Regions from separate parts of the Homo sapiens genome. Here region 2 is linked to region 1. The links come from fine-mapping of genetic effects on gene expression. A gene starts in region 1. The other region holds a variant in brackets. All regions are shown on one strand. Distances are between the middles of the regions.

Region 1 (2,843 bases):
CCGGATGGGCCATCATGAAAGCTTGAGCGGCCCAGATCAGGTCCTCTTCCCGAACTCCTGGGACGGGCACGGTGGGGATGCCAGCGATCATCATGGCGAGGGTGAGGATGCAGATATCAGGCTGGGAGCTGGCCTCCTTCCCCACTGCCTCAGAGGGTACCGGTAGAACCCGTGGTGACAGCCCACACAGCATCAGGGGCCTAGGCCTGCTGGGGCCACCCAGGTCAGGGGCTCTGCTTCTGGAGTAGCCATTGTCCCAGCCCAAGCTCTCCAGCTGCCTCACATGCGGGAATTTGTGGCAGTTTCGGCTGTATTCCTTCCGTAGTGTCTCCCAGCTAGTCCCCCCAGGGCAGCCCCTGGCTTGTGGCATTGCCAGGGCTGGGCCCCAGGCCTGGGCAGCAGGTGCCACCTGCTCAGCTTTCTGGCTCAGTGGGCCTGTTCCACCAGAGGCCACCACCACTGGCTCTACAGGACTACAGAGGCCAAGGGACAAGCCTGGAGAAGCAGCCCCACCTGCAGAGACAGGAATGAAATGGAACGTTATTCTCAGTTCTTTGAGGAGGGGGCCCTGAGGGGCAGGGCATGGGAGCAGAGCTTGGGGGCGTAACTAAGACCAGCCCCAGCGGACTGTCTAGAGGTTGGGAACTAGGTGTTACTCATATCCACACTCCCAGTCCCCAACACGGAGTAGGTGATGGAGAAGCGTTTGTTGAATTAATGAATAGTGAGCAAGCGGGTAGTTATTGATTGGCAAGGATGTTTGGAATGGCTTTTCTTCTAAAAGAATTGATTCTAGGGCCAGCCCCCAAATGCCCAGCAGAACCGCCACCTCCCCAGAGCCAGAAAGCAACTTCTCAGGGGAAGCTGCCGCACTCCCTCCAATTGCAGGTGCCCCCCGCTCACCTTGGCCGGAAGGCAGAGGACCTGGATGAGTTTGTGGAGTCCTGAAGTAGGACATGGCTTCCCCAAAGCCCCGGTTTGTGAGGGAATAGTGATCTGCCGCCTGTCCTCCCTTCTTCACCCTTCTAGAATGTCACCTCATAGACCCTCCCCTTCACACTTGGAATCCACTTTACAGCGTTGACCTATTCATTCTAGAACCTGGACATGACAATAGGATGAGGTTAAAAGAGCACCAGACCAGGAGCTGGGTGTTCTAGGTTCTTGCCCTAACCTTGAACGAGTCACCCAGATAGTTTTGTTCCTTGATATCCTTATCTGTAAAGTGTGTCTGATGACTGCCCACTACCTCATTAGGAGTTTTGAGGATGAAATGAGATCATTTGTATGGAAGCAGATGACCAGAGATGGAAACACAGGAGCCAAGTGCTTCGTGCCTTGTAGAGTAAGACTTCGGGTCAGACCCAGTATTGGTATTTTTCTTTTTCTTTTTTTGAGACAGAGTCTCACTTTGTCGCCATGACTGGAAGGCTGGAGTGCAGGAGCAAGACCTCAGCTCACTGCAACCTCTGCCTCCTGGGTTCATGCAATTCTCCTGCCTCAGCCTCCCGAGTAGCTGGGACTACAGGAACCTGCCACCACACCTGGCTAACTTTTGTATTTTTAGTAGAGACAGGGTTTCACCATGTTGGCCAGGCTGGTCTCAAACTCCTGACCTCAAGTGATCTGCCCACCTCGGCCTCCCAAAGTGCTGGGATTACAGGCCAGGTATTGGTATTTTTCAAAATTCCTCAAGTGATTATAATATATGACAAAGTTGGAACCTTTTTTCTAGGGACATACTTCTCAACCCTGGCTGTACATGAGAATCTCTTGAGAAGCTTTTACAAAACACAATGTCTAGGCCTAATTTCCCAACAAATCAAATACGAATCCCTAGGGATGGGATGTGGGACACCAGCACTCTTTACATATCCTAAGATGACTCTAACAAGCAGCCAGCCTAGGGACCCCTGCTCTTTTGCTCCGACCTGCTGACCTGCAGTGATTCTAAACGAAGTGACTCTCATAGGCTGTAGGGGCAAGGAGACCTTCCAGTGATCAAGATGTCAGCATCGGCTGTTTATTTCTGGTCTTGGCTGGCAGCAATGTGGCCAACTTCGGACCAGCCAGCCACAGGTCTGGGGCTCCAGGATGCAGCTGTGCTCTGGTGCACTGTGGGTCTTCACTCATACTTGCAGAAATCCTTAAGTTCTTTGGGCAGGTGGAGCCCATCAATGGCCAGCCGGTGCACCATGCTCCTTTGTATCACTAGGCGGCACAGAGTCTGCAGGGATGGCACTGTGGGAAGAAGACTGTGAAAGGCAAACTGAACTGGAGGGTGGGTCTGAGGCCAAGATCCAGAAGGTCTAGGTCATGGTCCCCACTTTGTCATTAAATGTGGGCAAGTCCTTACTGCTCTCTGGGCCCAGCCTGCTTCATGGGGCTGAGAGAAGCACCTCTTCCTGAGAGCTGCCACAAAGCTGCAGCCCTGTTTATATCATAACACTTAGCACAATCCCTTCCCCATTCACTTAGCAGCTTCTGGGGGCAGGGGTAGTGTCTGATTTGCCTGTGCAACTGAAGCCTCCAGCACAGGCCTGGCACAAAGAGGGTTCTGGTGCATTGAGTTCATGAAATGTGATGAGAGGTATAACTGCAATGCTTACCAGGGCTATAATGAATCATACTCAGCATTAAGAAGCTCTCAGTCTGGGGTTTGTTATGCCTCGAAGCCAATAGCCAATATGCCCAAGTCTATGAGCATGTTTCTTTCTTTTCTTTCTTTTTTTTTTTTTATTTAAAGAGAGAGGGTCTTGCTCTGTCACCCAGGCTGAAGTGCAGTGCTCAGTGAACTGCAGCCTTCAATTCTTGGGCTCAAGCGATCCTCCTGCCTTAGCCTC
Region 2 (2,905 bases), 39 kb after region 1:
AGAATCTGTTCATTGTCATCTCCTCTGAAGCTTTCTCCTTTGTGTGCCCACCACCCCCAGCCCCTGCCATCCCTCCAGAGCCCTCATCTCCCTGTGGCAGAGGGTTCATGTATATGTCTGCCTCCCACACTGCTCTGTGGGCTCCCTAAGACAAACCGTCTGTCCGTCTTACTTATCGCTTATTCTCAAGACTCTAGGACAGGCCAAGGGAAGAAATGGAGGGAATAGTACACCACATCAGACGCTTCCAAGGCCAGGAAGACCAAGGGAGACGCCCCCATTCCTCTCATCTATTCTTGGCCTAAATGGCTTCTCTCATCTGGTCCCAGAATGGCCCAAGAGCCACTCCCTGTGGGAACCACAGTTTGGGGTGGAAGCCTCCTTTCCACAGCTTTCCGGGGGCCAGACCCACTTGCCTTGGAAACTCCCTTTGCATAATTTAAACTGCAGTGTAGGGTCCATGGCCAGCTCAAGCCCAGCCTAGGCGGGGGCAACCTGGAGTGGGATCCAGCTAGAGTCTCCCTTCCCCAGCTGCCAGGACCTCAGGGGATGAAAGTTCCCTCTCAGCAGCTTCTTGCTGCAGTGGCAGAGAACAAGGGGGTTAAGCTATGTGGCAACCTGAGCTGGTTGTTTATGTTTCTGCTTTAGTGTGGAGGCTTGGCTTTGTCCGGAGTTGAGGCAGGGGTCCTCAGAGGCCCTGGCAGCTAGTGACCAGCCAGGAGTGGTGACATAATTTTCAGGGCTAGGGCCGGACATGATGGGTCACGCCTGTAATCCCATCACTTTGGGGTGCCAAGGTGGGTGGATCACCTGAGGTTGGGAGTGTGAGACCAGACTTGCCAACATGGTGAAACCCCATCTCTACTAAAAATCTAAAAATTACCTGGACCCAGTGGCACGTGCCTGTAGTCCCAGCTACTGGGGAGGCTGAGGCAAGAGAATTGCTTGAACCTGGGAGGGGGAGGTTGCAGCGAGCCGAGATTGCACCACTGCACTCCAGCCTGGGTGACAGAGCAAGACGCTGTCTCAAAAAACAATATTCAGGGCTCAGGGCAAAATGAAAACGTGGGACTTTTGTTCCAAAATTATTAAGATTTTTAAGATGGTGACAGTAGAACATTAAACCAAACACAGACTTTTCTTTTTTATTATTATTTTTATTTTCATCTTGTTTTTATTTTTTGAGACAGGGTCTAGAGTGCAGTGGTGCAATCATGGCTCACTACAGCCTCGAACTCCTGGACTCAAGCAATCACCCCCTGCGTCAGCCTCCCAAGTAGCTAGGACTGCAGGAGCACCTACTATGCCCAGCTAATTATTACTATTATTATTTTATGTAGAGATGGGGTTCTATGTTGCACATGCTGGTCTTGAACTTTTGGCCACAAGCAATCCTCCCACTTTGGCATCCCAAAGTGCTGGGATTACAGGCATGAGCCTCCACACCCAGTAAGCATGGGCCTTTCTAAATCTATGCAGCCGGCCCTGGTGCCAGGGAGAGGAGCCCAGCTTATTCCAACCACCTCTCTCAGCCCAGACCTATTGTCTACCCAGGCTTCTTAGTTCAGAAAAGTAGCTGGAGAAATGGAAAGCCTTAGGATCTTTGCTCAACTGCTCATCCCTATATTGGGAATAAAAGACTCCAGGCTACTGACAGAGACTCGGCCACAGCAGGCAGCCCACAGGGTGCTGCCTTGGTGTTCCCACCACAGAAACCAGAGCCTGGAATAGAAACGGGGATACCTGGCCAGGCACAGT[GC/G]CTCACGCCTGTAATCCCACCACTTTGGGAGGCCGAGGCAGGCAGATTGCTTGAGGTCAGGAGTTCGAGGCCAGCCTGGTCAACACGGTGAAACCCCCATCTCTACTAAAAACACAAAAATTAGCTGGGCCTGGTGATGTGTGCCTTTAGTCACAGCTACTCCGGAGGCTGAGGCAGGAGAATCGCTTGAATCCTGGAGGCAGAGGTTACAGTGAGCCAAGATCACACCACTGCATTCCAGCCTGTGCGACAGAGGGAGATCCTGTCTCAAAAAATAAATAAATAAACGGGCTACCTGAAAAAGCCACCTAGACTTCAACCCAGAGTGGTCTGTTCATGGTCATCAAATATTTACAGAGGGTCAGGCACAGTACTGAGCATGGGGTTACAAGGGTGAATAAGCCCCAGGCCCCACCCTTAAGCAGCGCACAGCCTAGTGGATGAGGAAAATTGACAAACATTATGAGCTTAGACCATTGTGGTAGTACAAGAGAGGGAACCTGTCCTAGCCGGGGTAGAAGGAAGTTCAGGGAAGGCTGCCTGGTGGAGGCGACATCTAGGCTAAGACTCGAAGGCTGAATTAGGTCAAGAGGGGAAGAAGAGTAAGGGCAAACAGCATATGCAGAGACTCAGGAGCTGGACACGGTGGCTCATGCCTGAAATCCCAACACTTTGGGAGGCTGAAGCAGGAATATTCCTTGAGGCTAGGAGTTTGAGACCAGCCTGGGCAACATAGTGAGATCTTGTCTCTACAAAAAAAAAAAAAATTTAATGAGCCAGGTGTGGTGGTGGTGTGCTCCTGCAGTCCCAGCTACTTAGGGGGCTGAGGTAAGAGGATCACTTGAGCCTAGGAGGTCAAGGCTACAGTGAGCCTGGATACAAATGGAGACTCTGGCTCAAAAACGAACAAAACAAAGAAAGAAATAAACAAAAACACAAAGGATCAGGGTCATGAAAGAACCTGGCACATTTAGGGAAATTATGAAGTAGTTCATGGTAGCTGGGACTGGATCAAGAAGAGATGGTTTGAAGGTCCAGATCATGAATAAAATGAATGTGTGTAAAGTGCTTGACGTTGTGCATAGTAAATATTCTGCCATGGTAGCTCATTATAATTCTGGTTTTGTAGGCCAAATTAAGGGTTTG

What was found.
Region 2: its variant is fine-mapped to the expression of SPATA25 in visceral fat (GTEx, PIP 0.98).

What each region holds. Positions count from the first base shown.
Region 1 is chr20:45,886,633-45,889,475 of GRCh38, forward strand. SPATA25 (spermatogenesis associated 25) reads right to left here and starts at 990. Exons shown (of 2, transcript NM_080608.4): 1 at 904-990; 2 at 1-513. The coding sequence starts at 958. NEURL2 (neuralized E3 ubiquitin protein ligase 2) reads right to left here. Exons shown (of 2, transcript NM_080749.4): 2 at 2,002-2,241. The coding sequence ends at 2,126. RefSeq lists enhancers at 1-201, 202-702.
Region 2 is chr20:45,925,378-45,928,282 of GRCh38, forward strand. No RefSeq gene overlaps it. Among named protein-coding and RNA genes, the nearest start is that of PCIF1, 7.9 kb to the right of the region's middle. RefSeq lists an enhancer at 1,933-2,227. The variant GC/G (reference allele first, on the strand shown) is at 1,759.